Linked DNA regions of Homo sapiens. The protein of the gene in region 1 purifies or fractionates together with the protein of each later gene. This does not show direct contact. Each region holds a gene or a part of one and is shown in the gene's direction. Other genes may lie near its edges. The genes, in order: RTP3, PUM2, APOBEC3F, ELAVL2 and DIS3L2.

Region 1 (4,050 bases):
TTTAGTTAGCAGTTTAAAATCAATAAAGTGTAACAACTATTTACATAGCATTTACATTGTATTAGGTATTATAAGTAATCTAGAGATCAATTAAAGTATACAGAAGGATGTGCATAGATTATATGCAAATACTATGTCATTTTGTATAAGGGACCTGAGCATCTGAGGATTTTGCTATCTGCAGGGGGCGCTGGAACCAATCCACCTGGAACTGAGGGACAGCTCTAATGCTGAGAAACAAAACTGGCTTGGAAAGAGGGGAGACCCAGGACTTGAGCCTGCCGAGGAGCTAAACCCAAGGGCAAGAGCTGCAGGCAGCTGGGCTGGAGAGGAGGAAGGAGGTGGCTTTGTTTCCAACTGCCCTGGAAGACCTCCTCATCCCCCTGCATCCCCAGCCTCCTTTCCTTTTTCCTTCCTGCTCTGCTCCCTTCCTTCCTCTCCTCCTCTTGGGAGGTGGCCAGGGACATAGGTCAGTGCCTGGCCCCGAGGAAGACACATGCAGTTTGTGGACGGGTCTTGGGATGCGGACACCCAGAGTCTTGTGCACCTTCCTGGAGTGTTGCCCACTCCAGTACCCACTCCCTAATCTCCCCTCTTCCTCCTCAATCCTCTCTTGCAGGAAGCAGAGGATGGAGAACCCCCTCAGGAAGGAGGGCAGTGACTCTGGGTTTGCCTAGGGCTAATGGCCTCTCACCGACCTGTGCCCTTGTACCTGTCGCCTGGGCAAACAGTGATTGCATCAGCTTTGGTTTCTCATGGGTGGGCAGCCTTGGCTGTCTGCCGGAACGTAAAGAGCATGGAGCAAGGACATGGGAATCCGAATCCCGCTGAGGTCCCAGGACCACTTCATCCTTCTTCCCTGTGCCTCTCCTCCCCAGCATGAGCACAGCAGCCTGATGGAGAAGGATTTTCCAATGTTAGAACTGGAAAGAACACCTGTAGCCTGTCTCCACCGTTTACAGTGGTGCTGGAAGTGAAAAGATGTGTTCCAGGTCACAGGCAGGTAGACAGCGGAGCCAGACTGAAATTCACTCCTCCTGATTTGGAGTTTAGAGCTCTTCTTTGGCAACATTTTGATGAATAAAATCACAAGTTCTGTGTCTTTTGAAATTCCTTGTGGAGCCTAGTGCCATCCTCTGAACTTGGAGCCAACTGACCTTTGTCCTTGGGGCAGAGACATGGTTCATGGGCCCAATCCAGGTCCTCAAAGGGAGGGCAGGTCTGAGTCCTTGCCCTCTGAAGTCAGAAACCTCATCTCCCACTACAGACCTGCCAGGGCCCAGGAGAGCTCGACCCACCCAGGCACACCATAGCCCCAGAGATGGCTGGGGACACAGAAGTGTGGAAGCAAATGTTTCAGGAGTTAATGCGGGAGGTGAAGCCATGGCACAGGTGGACCCTGAGACCAGACAAGGGCCTTCTTCCCAACGTCCTGAAGCCAGGCTGGATGCAATACCAGCAGTGGACCTTCGCCAGGTGAGGGGGAATGTGATGGTACACGTTCCAGAAAATTCTTGCACATTTCTTACTAGGTATACCTGTTACTTTTCTTGTTCTATTCTGTGCTTTCAAATTGAAGACTATGGGTAATAAGATGCCCATCATCCAAGAAGTTGTAACTTCATTAAAGATCGTTTTTTCACTATTACAATGAACCCCAAAGCAAGAGCAGGCCTGAGCACCCTTGTGAGCTAATGCCTGGATACAGAGAAATCAGTCTGTGGGGGTGGGGAGAGGGAGCAGCCAGGAAAGGGGAGGGGAGGAAGGGCAGCTGTTGCACCCACGGGCGGTGCATGTGCCCCATGCCTAGGGAGACTGCTGGACCCACCTTGGAGCCCCTAGGAGGAGAGACTCACGGCACTGAGCAGACACCCTCGGGGGAGGCCGGAGGAGCAGGGGGCCTGGGCAACAGGCAGCAATCCTGCCCCTCTCTACTCTGAGCTGATAGAATCTTTTTAAAATAGGAGTCTTAGAAATCATCCTAAGCCTCATCCTCTCTTTCCCAGGTGGAAATGGGGAGCCCCAAGGCTTGGGGCTGATTGCCCACAGTGCACAGAGGGTGGAGGCCGGGTCCCACCCGCTGTCCCCTCCCAGGGAGAGTCTACATAGAGGGGGCAGAGCTCTCCCACTGGCCTATGGCTATCCCAGGCCAGGAGCTGCCATAGGGAGCATTGCACCAAAGTCTCAGTCCATTTATCCATGGGAAGTTTGAACTCTGAACAAGCACAGGAACAGAGCACTGAGACCCAGGGGATGGCAGTGGACTTCTGCTCAGAACAGGGCCCAGGCCCCTCTGCACTGCTGACTCTGGGTGACTCCCAGCAAGGTCCTCTCACAGTGATCACAGCTTCTTGGCCTCTCCCTCTCATTTCAACCTTGCATTCACCCTGTGGGTTGCGGCTAGAGTCAAGATACAGGAGCACACCCTGGACTAACTCCCTCTTCCCAGCCCCCTCCAATTCACCACCTGCAGCCTAATTTCTCTGTATCCAGGCATCGGGGGCTCAGCCACAGTGACAAATAAACCTGGAAATATCACTGATTTAACCTTACACGTGGCTCCCAAGGTCACCGAAGCAGAGGAGGAGAGAGCTGGAATGTCTTACCAAGGCTTCTGTGACCATATCTGGAAGGAACATATATCACTGCTGGCCTCATCTCATTGCCCAACTGGTCCCATGGCCCCAGCCTCACGGCAAAGGGGCTGGGAAGTGGGAGGGAGTGCATGGATAATTTGGTGAGCATTAAATGTCTCCGCCACAGTGCAGCTCTCTGCCTCTCCCATAATTCCTTTCCCAGGTGCAGCCATGTGCTTCCTGCCTTCTTCTCTCTCTACCTCCTGACATGTATTTGTCCAGATACCTTAGCTCAAAAACTGCCCTCCTCCCTGCTGAGACAAGGTGTATTATCTTGTATCCTGTCTGAAGCCAGTGGCATTCAGAATATGAAGTTTTCCAGGCTACCTTGAGCAAGGGAACTGGGTTGGAGGGGAAACAAATGAAGAGAGAGCTGGACACTGTGATCTCCCTGCAATACCGCAGACCAGGGACCCTCGGCAGCCAAGAGAAAGGCAAAGGCTTTCCTCTAGGAGAACCCTGGACACTTCAGGCTCCCACCGCCAACCCATGAGTCTATAACTTAATCAACACCCACCTATAGGCATTTGTGGATTTCAGGGTCCTGAACTGAACTGGCTGCTGTTGCAGTTGTGGCCTCTGACCCATTTGAATCTACATTTGAAGAAGCTTTGCTTTGGAATAGGGAGACCACAGTCCCAGTCATGCCTTTTTACACCCACTGGGTCTCTGGACATGAGGAGTTTCCAGAGTGTGCCTCATCTCTAAAATGGACGTGTTGGACTTAGAAGATGCCCAAGGTCCCTCCCAGATCTAACAGCTTGCAATTCACTGTTTTCATAGCAGACACTGTGCAGCATGCAGTGTGTCAGTGGCACAATGGAGATGGGAAAGAGGTCTTAGCAATTTCTTCCACCACTGAGCCACAGCCCCAGTCAAGTCATGTCTCTGTGCAGTCGGTAGCTCCTTTCTCTCTCTGGCAGTTCCCCGTGATTTGGTCACATGGAGCCAGGCTGAGACTCTCTTCTGTCTCCACAGGTTCCAGTGCTCCTCCTGCTCTCGTAACTGGGCCTCTGCCCAAGTTCTGGTCCTTTTCCACATGAACTGGAGTGAGGAGAAGTCCAGGGGCCAGGTGAAGATGAGGGTGTTTACCCAGAGATGTAAGAAGTGCCCCCAACCTCTGTTTGAGGACCCTGAGTTCACACAAGAGAACATCTCAAGGATCCTGAAAAACCTGGTGTTCCGAATTCTGAAGAAATGCTATAGAGGAAGATTTCAGTTGATAGAGGAGGTTCCTATGATCAAGGACATCTCTCTTGAAGGGCCACACAATAGTGACAACTGTGAGGCATGTCTGCAGGGCTTCTGTGCTGGGCCCATACAGGTTACAAGCCTCCCCCCATCTCAGACCCCAAGAGTACACTCCATTTACAAGGTGGAGGAGGTAGTTAAGCCCTGGGCCTCAGGAGAGAAT
Region 2 (3,521 bases), on another chromosome or scaffold:
CTCAAAACTCCTGAGCTCAGGTGATCCACCAGCCTCAGGCTCCCAAAGTGCTGGGATTACAGGTGTGAGCCATCGCATCTGGCTATAAGCACTTTATTATAAGAGCATTTTATAAAAGAACAAAGATACCTGACATTAATTCTTCCCTTAGGGAATTATTGAGATAATATGTAAAAATCATAGCCCATAAGTAGTCATCAACTTCTTAGCCTTTTCTATGTACTTGATAAACTCACTCAGCCATTAAAAATAATTCCTTTGGTGGTGGAGGTGGTACTAAGTAAGGCGGAAGTGTGTAATTCTGAATTAGTCATGTTAGTTACCGCCCGATAAATATTAGCGGATGATTTACACAGTGAAGACAGTTTAAATACAGCAAGTTCAGCATCACTACGTTGTTTCAACATACATCATTTACATTATAATCCTGCAGTGTGTTTTAGTAATTTTCACTTTTCAATGGTTTCTGCTAATTATACTACAAGAGAAAAAAATTTAAACCCTTGACAAACAGGAAATAATATTTGTGAATATATTTGTGTTCCCATCTCAGTATTTTTAATACTGAGATAAATATACTGAGATTTTTAATATTTTTAATTTTTAATACTGAGATAAAATATACTAGTATTTTCTCGTTTGAGGTAATAATTTAAATGACATCCTGTCTTTTGCAGAGTGAAATGGTAAAGGAGCTGGATGGTCATGTGCTCAAATGTGTGAAAGATCAGAATGGAAACCATGTTGTACAAAAATGTATCGAATGTGTTCAGCCACAGTCACTACAGTTCATCATTGATGCTTTCAAGGGACAAGTATGTTTGAGTTTTGGCTTATAATTTGTTAGCAGGGCATTATTTTAGAATTTTGAATATCAACACGTTTTTCATGAGTCACTAGATAATACCCAGCAATTGTATACAAAAATAGGATACAAAACAGTAAATGTACATTAATTTCTTCCTCTTTCATAGTCAGTAGATAGCTTCATTTTTCTGAAGCTGCAAAACAAATAGTTTAATCACATTACTTTAAGAAGTAAAGGTAATCACTGTTAGAATTGTTTTTTATTTATACCCAACGATGTTTTCAGGTTTACTCAGAGAAGGGAAGGAGGTTTGGAGAAAGACATAAGACTGTATAATAAGACAGAAAACACATAGCAATTTGTAACTAATACATAGTAATTAATATTTCTTAATGCTGAACTACCCTTTCTCTTTTCACCCATTCATTCCCATTGTTACATAACCTCAGGTTCAGGTAAAGTTCTGGTTAGGTTCCTTTTGATCAAAATATCTTCAGCTCCTAAATGGAGTGCTCCCTGTCCCCACTCTCCAGTCTTTTCTAACATGGTGGTAGTCATATTAAATGTGAGTTCATCACCCTTCTATTTCAAACTGCTTTTAGGTGTTGTCAAAAAAAAAAAAAACAAACCAGTCTGCTTCATAGAACTGTTCAAAAATGTCAGAGAATACAAATTTTAATTCTTCTAATTGTCCTCAGGTATTTGTGCTTTCAACTCATCCTTATGGCTGCAGAGTAATTCAGCGCATCCTAGAGCATTGCACTGCAGAACAGACCTTACCTATCTTAGAAGAACTCCACCAACATACAGAGCAGTTGGTACAGGTATAAATTCCCTAATAATTTGAAATGTTTATATATTTTTGGAAATTGTTTTAATTTTTAAAAGAAATACAATTTGTTACTAAACACACTATAGACAAGAGTGAGACAAAAGGCTGTTGTATTCTCCTAACTATCCTACTGGATTTTTAGATGAAATGATTAACATGTCTTTAAAGAATATCATTCTTAAGGAATGACTTAGGGAAAGTAATTTTTAAATATCTGTCTTAGGATCAGTATGGCAATTATGTTATTCAGCATGTACTGGAACACGGTCGACCTGAAGACAAGAGCAAAATTGTTTCCGAAATCAGGGGAAAGGTTTTAGCCCTGAGTCAACACAAATTTGCCAGGTATTGTAATACTTTGTAATTTTAAGGGTCAATTCTTTCAACTCATTGACTTTTATTAGTTATCACAGAAATACGTGTAGCATGTAGCATTAAACTGTAGTCTTTTTTTTTTGGTATCATTAAAATGCACCTATAGAACATTGCTTTTGTTTTTTAAAAAAATCTACATAACAAATTTGTTTTGCCCACATATGTTCATTTATGAAATCTGTATTTGGAAAATAATTACTCCCGACACTGGAAATGCAGATTTATTTAGTACATGTTTCTTGAAAACCTCACAGCTTTAATGATCTGGTTTCCTTTTTTTTGAAGTACAATTTTAAGAGACCTGTAATTAAACTTGTGGATGTCAAAATGATGTAGGTTGTTCCAAGATACCAATTTCTGTTATAAAAGTAATTGGCTGGGTACAGTGTCTCACACGTGTAATCCCAGCCAGCACTTTGGGAGATCAAGGCAGGAGGATCAGTCGAGCCCAGGAATTCGAGATCAGCCTGGACAACATAGAGGGAGATCCTTTCTCTACAAAAAATTATCCAGGCGTGGTGGCGCATGCCTGTAGTCTCAGCTATGGGGGAGGCTGAGGTGGGAGAATCACTTCAGCAAGGGAGGTCAAGGCTGCAGTGAGCGGTGATAGCATCACTGCACTCCAGCCCGGGTGACAGAACAAGACCCTGTCTCAAAAAAAAAAAGAACAAAATAAAATAAAAGTAATCATAAGACAAGAGAATCCCATCCTGACTTCTGTTTTATTGTTCATTGGAGAAGATTCTTTCTATAAGTCAAGGAAATTTTGCTGTGAAGAAAAAAATAACAAATCTTTGTTTATCTGCTTTAATTTTTAGCAATGTAGTAGAAAAGTGTGTTACTCATGCCTCCCGTGCTGAGAGAGCTTTACTGATTGACGAGGTTTGCTGCCAGAATGATGGTCCTCACAGTGCCTTATACACCATGATGAAGGACCAGTATGCCAATTACGTGGTTCAAAAGATGATTGATATGGCTGAACCTGCTCAGAGAAAGATAATCATGCACAAGGTAATACAGCATGTAACACTCAGATAACTGTTTGTCTTTGTGTTTAGGCTACACATTTAACCTCCTTGGGCTTTCATTTCCTCCCGTATGTTATAACTGGAGGAAAAATTAAAATCGATGGATATCCTTTGGCAGATATATTGGTATGGTTTCCATTTTTATGCTTAAGGTTATCATGGCCAGGCATGGGGGCTTTTGCCCATAATTCCAGCAGATTGGGAGGCTGAGGTGACAAGATCACTTGAGCCCAGGAGTTTGAGACCAGCCTGAGCAATGTGGCAAGACCCTCCCTCTACAAAAAAAAAAAAAGAAAAACAATTAGACAAGCATCATGGTGCAACCCTTTAGTCCCAGCTACTTGGGAGGCTGTGGTGGGAGACCACTTGAGCCCAGGAGTTCAAGACCAGTCTGGACAACATAGACCCCCATCTCTACAAAAAATTTAAAAATTAGCTGGGTATGACGATACATGCCTGTGGTCCCAGCTACTCAGGC
Region 3 (2,826 bases), on another chromosome or scaffold:
GAAATGGGTATGTAAGTTGAAAACCAGAAGTTTTGAGAAACATCCTTTGTTAACTTTCATCCTACAAATTGGGTCATTCATGTCCTACGCAGCTAAAACAGAGCCCAGGAGCCAGGGAGGAAAAGCAGTCAGGCCACACACCATTGCTCCCAAAATGGACTTCTCTGCAAGCCTGACTCCTGAAACTGTGCATTGTACCCTGAAACCAGCTTTATCCATAGCTTCTGCAATAAATGGCTGTAAGTCTTGGACTCCTTGCTATAATCGCAGCTATTCAGCAATGGAACCTCCCAGTTCCCAACCCTTCCTAGTGCCCATGGGCTTTCCCATAGGACAAGAGAACATTTCTCCTTTTCTTTTTTTTTTTCTTTGAAATGGAGTCTCGCCCTGTCACCCAGGCTGGAGTGCAATGGTGCGGTCTCGGCTCACTGCAACCTCTGCCTCCCTTGTTCAAGTGATTCTCCTGTCTCAGCCTCCCGAGTAGCTGGGATTACAGGCGTCCACCACCAAACCAGGCTAATTTTTGTATTTTTCATAAAAACGGGTTTCATCATGTTTCCCAGGCTGGTCTTATTTTTATTTTATTTTTTGAGATGGAGTCTTGCTCTGTTGCCCAGGCTGGGGTGCAGTGGTGCAATCTGGGTTCACTGCAGCCTCTGCCGCCTGAGTTCAAGCTATTTTCCTACCTAAGCCTCCCAAGTAGCTGGGATTACATGCGCGTGCCACCACGCCTAGCTAATTTTTGTGTTTTTAGTAGAGACGGGGTTTCAACATCTTGACCAGGCTGGTCTTGAACTCCTGACCTCGTGATCCACCCGTCTCGGCCTCCCAAAGTGCTGGGATTACAGGCGTGAGCCACCTGGCCAGGCTTAGGCTGGTCTTAAACTCCTGACCTCAAGTGATCCAACCTCCTTGGCCTCCCAAATTGCTGGGATTGCTGGTGTGAGCCACAGCGCCTAGCCCATTTCTCCTTTTAATAGGACCTGTTGCTGTCTCTGTTCTCCCAACATGGTGAACACCACCCGGACTGCGTGTATGTCCCAAATTACAATTCTTTCTTTGCAAATGAAATGTGAAATTTAGAGGCCCTTCTCCACACTTTAAATTTGACTTGACATTTTCTAGGCAGATATAAGTTATTAGAGAATGAGATTCTCTATAAAAATGATCCCTTCATGCTGTGGCCTCCACAGAAGATGCCCTGGGCCAGGTGCCCACATGAATAATGCGGGCCACAGGCAGGCATTTATTTTCTCACAGATATGGAGGCTACAAGTCCAAGGTGGAGGGGTCGGCGGGGTTGTTTGCTCTGAGGCCGCTCCTCCTGGATGGCAGGGATCCCTTCTGGCTGTGTCCTCTGTGGCCTTTCCTCTATGAACCTGTACTGTACCTCTGGGGTCTCTCTGCTTCCAAATATCTTTTTTTTTTTTTTCAGACAGTTTTGCTCTTGTTTTCTAGGCTGGAGTGCAATGGCACAATCTCAGCTCACTGCAACCTCTGCCTTCCGAGTTCAAGCGATTCTCGTGCCTCAGCCTCCTGAGTAGCTGGGACTACAGGCGTGTGCCACCACGCCTGGCTAATTTTGTAGTTTTAGTAGAGACGGGGTTTCTCCATGTTGCTCAGGCTGGTCTTGAACTCATGAGCTCAGGCGATCCACTCTCCTCAGCCTCCCAAAGTGCTGGGATTACAGATATAAGCCACCATACACAACTTTTTTTTTTTTTTGAGATGGAGTTTCACTCTGTTGCCCAGGCTGGAGTGCTAAATAGCAGAATCACTGCTCACTGCAACCTCTGCCTGCTGGGTTCAAGCAATTCTCCCACCTCAGCCTCCTGAGTAGCTGGGATTACAGATGCCCAGAACCAATCTCTGCTAATTTTTCTATTTTTTAGTAGAGATGGGGTTTCACTGAGGAAGGAGACCACCTCTCTCATTGTCTCCTATTTCAGAAGGAAGCAAAAAGTTAGAAAGATGCAGAAGTAAGATCAATGGCCAGACTGTTTGGCGCTGCTACCTGGGCCTGGTAGTTAAAGATCAACTCCTGACCTGACCGCTTGTTTTATCTAAAGATTCCAGACATTGTATGAGGAAGCATTGTGAAACTTTCTGGTCTGTTCTGCTAGCCCCCACCACTGATGCATGTAGCCCCCCAGTCACGTAGCCCACGCTTGCACAATCTATCACGACCCTTTCACGTGGACCCCTTAGAATTGTAAGCCCTTAAAAGGGCCAGGGACTTCTTCAGGGAGCTCCAATCTTCAGATGCAAGTCTGTCAACGCTCCCAGCTGATTAAAGCCTCTTCCTTCCTAAAACTGGTGTCTGAGAGGTTTTGTCTGCAACCGTTCCTGCTACATCACCATGTACATTCCAGGCGAGGCTGGTCTCGAATTCCTGACGCCCACCTCTGCCTCCTAAAGTGCTGGGATTAAAGGCATGAGCCATGGCACCTGGTCGACCTTCTCCTTTATGGACCCCAGACAAATTAATTTGTGCCCACACTAGAGGTCTCATTTAAATTAATCATCTTGGTCGGGCGTGGTGGCTCACGCCTGTAATCCTAGCACTTTGGGAGGCTAAGGCAGGCAGATCACTTGAGGTCAGTGTCACACGTGTCCATGTGAAGAGACCACCAACAGGTTTTGTGTGAGCAACAAGGCTGTTTATTTCACCTGGGTGCAGGTGGGCTGAACCAGAAAAAGGAGTCAGCAAAGGGTGGTGGGATTATCATTAGTTCTTACAGGTTTGGGATAAACCTATCCCAAACCTATAAGTGTACATTCTTAAAGGCATACAAAGTACATTCTTAAGTGTGGGGGAGAATATTA
Region 4 (3,521 bases), on another chromosome or scaffold:
ATTTTCCTTTTTGAGAGAGTATTTTTATTTTTGTGTGGTTAAAACCAGCCCCTTGTTGCCTGTTATTTGGGTAACTTTGTGCTGCCACCTTTCAGGGAGTTAGTTGTTTTTTTCTTCCTTTGAAAGACAACTTTAGGTGTTAAGCCCCTCCCTCTTCCTTATCTGTAGGTGTTTCCTTCATTGTGTAGTGTCTTCTTTCAGGAACAATCAAGTCAGCTATATTCAGTGCTCACACACTTTCCCTGTGGTTCAAGATAATTTTAGTTATAGGATATGCTTCTTGTTTAGAGCAAGTACCCACTGCTGGTCAGTGTCTACCACTCTTTTGACACTCAGTGTCAAAAGGTTACTATGGAACCTTTTTTCTTTTCTAGGCCTAAGATGTGTTTTTATAGATCCTCTCTGATTTAGTTTTTTTGGTTGATTTGTTCTGGTTACCGCCTCTTCACAAGAGAAAAACAAAGCCTTTCTGTCCCAGTTTCAGTGGTTTTAGTTAAGACTCAGCTCCTGGTAGGTTAAGGGAGAATGATGCTGTGAGTGTCATATACCATCATTCCTTGAATCAACCTTTTGATTATTTATACACAGACAGATGCTGCTAGCTGAATCCTTGTAACCAACCGCTCTTGGCTCTTCCAGCCTTCCCTGCTTATCTTTTAAAAATAATGTGCCTCCCCTCCTGCCACCCCACTTCTATTCTAGAAGCAAGTCTTAGGTTCTCTTTAAGGACACAGCAAAGCCTTCCAGAATATCCTGACTTTTAAGCTGGGATCAACCTTTTCCTCTTTCTTTGCTGAAAGACATTTTTTTAAAAAACCTGTGACGCTTTTCAGGCATTATTGGCATTGCACAAGAGCACCACAGTGGCAAATTAGCCTTCATGTTCTTTTTCCCCAAAGGACTAGATACTCTGAAATAGCTTCTTAAGCTTCTTATCAAGACTGACTTTACCATTCCCCTTTTTGATGACTTGTCTGCATGGTAGCATCAGTATTTTCGCTCCCATTTGATGTCTTATTAAATCTATCACATCGTCACATTCTTATTGCCACTTTTATCACTCATAATGTTTATTTGGAATTGAGAGAGGCTAGAATCTGTGGTACTTAGCTTGGTTTGGTTACTTTTTTGTTGACATTTTAAGGGGGCTAGATGGTGTGCCACCCTGTGGAAAACCTGCCCATCTCAGTCTACCCCCAGCTCTTTGTTTCTTGGCTACTCAGCTGGACAGGTCAAAAATGATAGTAAGCTACCACATTTGAGTGTGTGTGGGGGGAGGTTAATTTTATTTTTGGCGTGAGTACTTAGTTATGGGCAGGACTGCTTTTCCAGCTTGTAACCGGTATGGTTGCACATCCTACCCAATCTTGAAATTCTTAAGAATTTTTGGACAAGGTTACCCTGCATTTTCATCTTGCACTGGGACCCACAGATTACGTAGCTTTTCCTGGTTAGTTGCCTTCCCACTTGTTAGTATTTAGCTGTCAGTATTGCTGCTTTGTTGATATATTATAGAACTGTTTGAAGGCTTTATGTCTAGTGATGCCACACCTGACTATCAAATTCACTATGGAGGACATAAAATGCATAAAATTTTTTCTTGCTTTGGCCATTTTCATTTTACAGGTGTAGAAGTCTTCACCGGTTCTGGTTACGCACAGAGCCCACATATTGTAGTTCAGTGCCAAATCCACACTTTTGTATGTTCTAATTTGGGAAGAACATTTATTGTATATTTATTTGGTTCGAGATACTAGACGGTTTATAGTGCTAGTTAATTATTTAAGGATTTCACATAACGTAAATTTGCCAAGTGGAAACAGAAGACACTTAAGCTTGAAAGGCAGTGCTTATTTTAAGGCTTTTACATATTAAAAGATAAGTGTTTTATTATGATTTAAATGATAACTTTTGGAGTCTGAATTAAAAGTCAAAGTTTGCGTAATAAAATCTTAGATTTTTGTGGGGTACTTAGGACATTTTTCACTAGTAAATTTAACAGATTTGGCTTTCAGCTTGTGTGATGTGTATCATATGTTTCATTTTAGTAAGGCTAGAAGAATTTTTTATTTCAAGGGAAGAATTTTTTTTATCTCTAAGCTTGTATTCCATTGTGCAAAACAAAACAAAAGGTAACTCTTGTGTGAGCAACGCTGTGCTAAATGCATTCTCATAGACATCTTCATCTTTAATATCAATGTTAAGTTTCTAGAGATTGGTCTTAATAAAAATAACTATTTTTGCAACGAGCATTCTTTTCTCAGAGCTTTGAGTTAGGCTCTCAATGCGTGAACTGAATTGATATGCTTAATGACATGGTACCTTTTTGAATATTGCTGAATAGTTCTGTGTGACAACAGATACAGGTTTTCGTTGTAAGAAATCTTTATGAAGAGAAGGATGGGGGCTTTGAGGAGTAAAATAGGTAAAATAACCCAGAAAGTCATAAGAATAGGTGGAATGGGGATAAAACTAAACCAGTTTATAGAATGCCTTACAGTGTCTTTTTTTTAAATAAACTTGCAGTTTCTTAGTATATATTTATATTACTGATATCTATTACATCAGTTTCTGACTGAAAATGAATAGGAGATAAGGTCTGACATGCAAAATCCCCTTTCCCACTTTTAAAAATGTATTTTAAAAAACTTGACAAATTTAAAATTATACTTACTGTAAGACAGTAACAGTAAAATGATAGGTTTTTTTTTTTAAGACACAGTGAAGGTTTTGCTTTAGCACTGGTATATTTTGAACCAGGTATGTTATCTACAGTTTGATGTACCTGTATATTTTTCCGTTGGCCAATCTAATACAGATGCTCCTGATAAACCCATTGCAAGTTGAAAATGGCATTAAGTTAAAAATGTATTTAATACGCCTAACCTACTGAATATCAGAGCTTAGTCTAGCCTACCTTAAACATGCTCAGAACATTTATGTTATAGTTGGGCAAAATCATCTGGCAACACAGAGTATCCATTTTTCACTCTCATGATCCATTGCCTGAGTGGGAGCTGTGGCTTGCTACCATTGCCCTATATCGAGAGAGTCTCTTACCATAGACTGCTAGCCCGGGAAAGGATCAAAATTCAAAATATAGTTTCTCCTAAACGTGTGTTACTTTTATATCACCATACAGTTGAAAAATCGTAAGTTTGAACCATCATAAATTGGGGACCATCTGTAGTGATAGATTTAATCCTTGGGTTTTTCCTTTGACTTAAAAAGTTTATCATGAAAGGGAAATTTATATTCTAAATGTTCTTTTCTTCCAGCATTTTGTTTTTGTGGGTTGTTCATTATTGGAGATTATTTCAGCAACTTTAAAGACTATGTTAATAGGATATCACAAAAATCTTTTATAAATATCAAAGCAATAAACTATTCCTTCAAGATGGATTTTTATCCCCTTTTTTTTTTTTTTTTTTTTTTTTTTTTTACTGAAAGCTTTTAGTACACACTTTCTTGACTAATTTCATCTCTTTATGGGACTAGGGAATGATAGTTGTTTTGAGATT
Region 5 (3,521 bases), on another chromosome or scaffold:
CCATGTTGGCCAGGCTGGTCTTGAACTCCTGACTGCAAGTGATCTGCCTGCATTGTCCTTCCAAAGTGCTGGGATTACAGGTGTGAGCCACCACGCCAGGCCCATAATGTCTTTCCAGGAGACTACCTTTTACCTGCTAGACCAACTGCAGCATGACAGTTGCTTTCTTGCCCAGAACTTCTCTCTCTGAGATAAAGTATGTATGGGGATGATACAGGAAAAACCATTAAACCCGAGATTGTATATAGCCACCATGCTTTAGACATAGGGTATACACCTGTGCCTTCTGCCTGTGCTTAGGCTGCTCTGACAGTACCCAAGGTTGTATTAGTTCTTTGAGGATGGTCAGGGGCAGATGTTCCTAAATATTTCTGAATTTGCCAGGCATATTTAAGGAAATTGAATGAATTTGTTGATTTGAGTGATATCGGATTCTTTTTCTGCTGTAACTTGTCAGTAAATTTTCTTATTTTTGGATGATCTTCTTTGGGTCAGTTATGAAAACAAGGCTTATGTGGTAAAGCAGAAGTGCAGATGGGGGAGCTGGTTTTTTAATTGTACAGGCTGTGTATTCCTTATCCAGAATAAGGAATTCTTATCCAAAATAAGGTCCTTTTTGGGACCAGAAGTGTTTTTTTTGGGTTTGGGATGTTTTTCGGATTTTGGAATATTTACATTATACCAGTTGAGCATCCTAAATCCTAAAATCTGAAATCTGAAATGCTTCACTGAGCATATCTTTTGATTGTCATGTTGATGCTCAAAAAGTTTCAGATTTCAGACCATTTTGGATTTTCAGATTAGGGATGTTCAACCTGTGTATCAGTGCCCTAGCTGTAGCTTCACTCACATGAGCTCTTGCAGGAAGGGCCCTGCGGGAATCTTTTTGGAGATTGCTGGCCTGGCCAGTAGAACTTTTTTGTAGTATTAAAGAGAGGGAGATATGTCTGTTTCTAACTTCCCATTGACAGATGAATGGACAAATGAATGTATGAATCTGACATGAGTCAAAACAAGCAAAAAAGAAAATTTTATTAAATATACTCAGGGACTGGGAACCAAGTTTTTAAAAAAGTTTGCTCAAAAGTTTTGAGCACAGTTTTGCTCAAAAAAAAAAAAGCATTGTTTACAAGTTTTTCTATTACTATATTTTTATGGAGTCAATTTTTACAAACTGAGGATATATTCTTACCTTTATTCTGATCGTTCTTTGTAATATTTTACTTTGGTTTTCTGAGTTGATATTATAATATTAATTGTCTAGGAATGGTTATGTTAATTGAACCTACTGTATTAAAATGCTTTAGGAAAGATTTAATAACTTTTTCTCTCTTGTATAAGGTGAAGATCTTTCACTAAGCATGATCTTTGTGTTACTTTTAATTAGAACATTAGACCTATCAAATATAAACATGGTGAAACTGCTAGAGCTCTCTTACTTCATTCAGGTCTCTGCTCAAATGCTGCTTCCTCTAAGCAGTATTTCCTAATCACCCTACTGATAAACTAGGCACACCCTCTCCATTATTCTCTCATTTACTTAACGAGCTTTCTCATTCTTTCAATATATTTAATTGCGCTTCTCACTAGTCGACTTTTGATTGTGTTCACTGTTCTGCCCTTGGCACCTAGAACAGTTTCTGGCACCATGAAAGGGACTCCATAATGACTTGTTGAATGAGTAAATTGTTCATCATTTGTCACCCCACTAGGATGTAGGACTCATGACGGTGCCTGGCACGAGGTGGGCATTCCAACATTTGTTTGAAAGAATAAAAGGAATGTTTACAAGTAGTGATCAAATTCATTTTTTATATTTATGTATATACAGGTGATCATTTAAGTTTTAATTATATGTTTAAATTGAACATAGGTATTTATCATATAGAAATAGATTATTAAAAAGGATGCAGTATTCAAGTAACATCCAAGAACCTACAAAATCTGCTGCTTTTTTGCTAATGTGGATGGGCAGATTTACATGTAGGGTCACAATTTTTTTCAGTGACTCAATAACACCTGGTGTATTTTAATATAGTGTCCATAGACATCAGAGTGCTGTATGTGACAAACTCATAAAATGGATTAGTATCTGGATTGGTTTTTTATTTTATTTTATTTTATTTTTTTTAGAGCTAGAATATCCCTTTGTCGCCCAGGCTGGAGTGCTGTGGCGTGATCATAGCTTACTGTAACTCCTAACTCCTAGGCTCAAGTAATCTTCCCACTTCAGCCTCCCAAGTAGCTAGGACTACAGGCGCCCTGCCCCCCAACTATGCCTGGTTGATTTTTAAATTTTTTTTAGAGGCAAGGTCTCAATATGTTGCCCAGGCCGGTCTTAAACTCCTCCTGCCTTGGCCTCCCATAGCTCTGAGATTACAGGTGTGAGTCACTGTGCCTGGCCTGGATTTTTTTCCTCTACTTGCTTCATTAGTATTGTAGTGTAAATGTCCATCAGTGTGTGTGTGCTTTATACGTATATACGTATATATACACACGTATAGACGTGTATACGTATATATACACACGTATAGACGTGTATACGTATATATACACACGTATAGACGTGTATACGTGTATATACATATACGTATATATGTATACATATATACATATGTATATGTATATGCATATGCATATGTATATATACATATATGTATATATATGTGTATATGTATATGTATATGTATATGTATATGTATATGTGTATATATACATATACATGCAGAGAAAGACCTTTCACTGTGAGAAAGTTCAGCCTGCAGATTGTATAACAAAGTCAGAATTCTGGTACCTGTGATATTTTCTCCATGGTTGATGGGAACCAAATCCTTTGTGGAACCATTAGTGGCAGAAATAAATACATAATAGAAACTAAAGGCCTGAGCCTTTAAATATATATATATATATGTGTGTGTGTGTATATATATATATATACACATATATATATATGTATATATATATATATGTGTGTGTGTGTGTGTGTATATATATATTTTTTGAGACAGAGTCTCGCTCTGTCACCCAGACTGGATGGAGTGCAGTGGTGCCATCTCGGCTCGCTGCAAGCTCCGCCTCCTGGGTTCACACCATTCTCCTGCCTCAGCCTCCCAAGTAGCTGGGACTACAGGCACCCGCCACAACTCCTGGCTAATTTTTTTATATTTTTAGTAGAGACAGAGTTTCACCGTGTTAGCCAGGATGGTCTCAATCTCCTGACCTCATGATCCGCCCGCCTCAGCCTCCCAAAAGTGCTGGGATTACAGGCTTGAGCCACCGCGCCTGGCCAATAAAGCTTTATATTTTTATAAGAACATTTTATAAACTCTTGTTCACACTTAATTTTGTTTTTTTTCCACTTCATCTTGTATTCTTGTGGTTTCCTTGGTTTCCTTTAGGAACACTGTGGCATACTTTGTTGAGTTCTTTTATCATTCCCTAACTTACTAATTGTTCCTATATGGTGAGGGTTTATGAAGCAGCATGGTACTACTTCTGGTATTCAGGGCCTTTGGGGAGAG

Evidence for each region.
Region 2: the proteins of RTP3 (region 1) and PUM2 purify together in Homo sapiens (affinity purification with mass spectrometry; one large-scale study listed by BioGRID and IntAct). This does not show direct contact.
Region 3: the proteins of RTP3 (region 1) and APOBEC3F purify together in Homo sapiens (affinity purification with mass spectrometry; one large-scale study listed by BioGRID and IntAct). This does not show direct contact.
Region 4: the proteins of RTP3 (region 1) and ELAVL2 purify together in Homo sapiens (affinity purification with mass spectrometry; one large-scale study listed by BioGRID and IntAct). This does not show direct contact.
Region 5: the proteins of RTP3 (region 1) and DIS3L2 purify together in Homo sapiens (affinity purification with mass spectrometry; one large-scale study listed by BioGRID and IntAct). This does not show direct contact.

What each region holds. Positions count from the first base shown.
Region 1 is NC_000003.12:46,496,742-46,500,791, forward strand, and holds the start of RTP3 (receptor-transporting protein 3), read left to right. Parts: upstream 1-1,234; 5' UTR 1,235-1,321; coding exon 1,322-1,476; intron 1,477-3,614; coding exon 3,615-4,050.
Region 2 is NC_000002.12:20,253,327-20,256,847, reverse strand, and holds part of PUM2 (pumilio homolog 2), read left to right. Parts: intron 1-677; coding exon 678-815; intron 816-1,506; coding exon 1,507-1,632; intron 1,633-1,863; coding exon 1,864-1,985; intron 1,986-2,833; coding exon 2,834-3,026; intron 3,027-3,521. UniProt on the Homo sapiens protein: Sequence-specific RNA-binding protein that acts as a post-transcriptional repressor by binding the 3'-UTR of mRNA targets.
Region 3 is NC_000022.11:39,053,660-39,056,485, forward strand, and holds the end of APOBEC3F (DNA dC->dU-editing enzyme APOBEC-3F), read left to right. Parts: 3' UTR 1-2,313; downstream 2,314-2,826.
Region 4 is NC_000009.12:23,816,239-23,819,759, reverse strand, and holds part of ELAVL2 (ELAV-like protein 2), read left to right. Parts: intron 1-3,521.
Region 5 is NC_000002.12:232,083,693-232,087,213, forward strand, and holds part of DIS3L2 (DIS3-like exonuclease 2), read left to right. Parts: intron 1-3,521.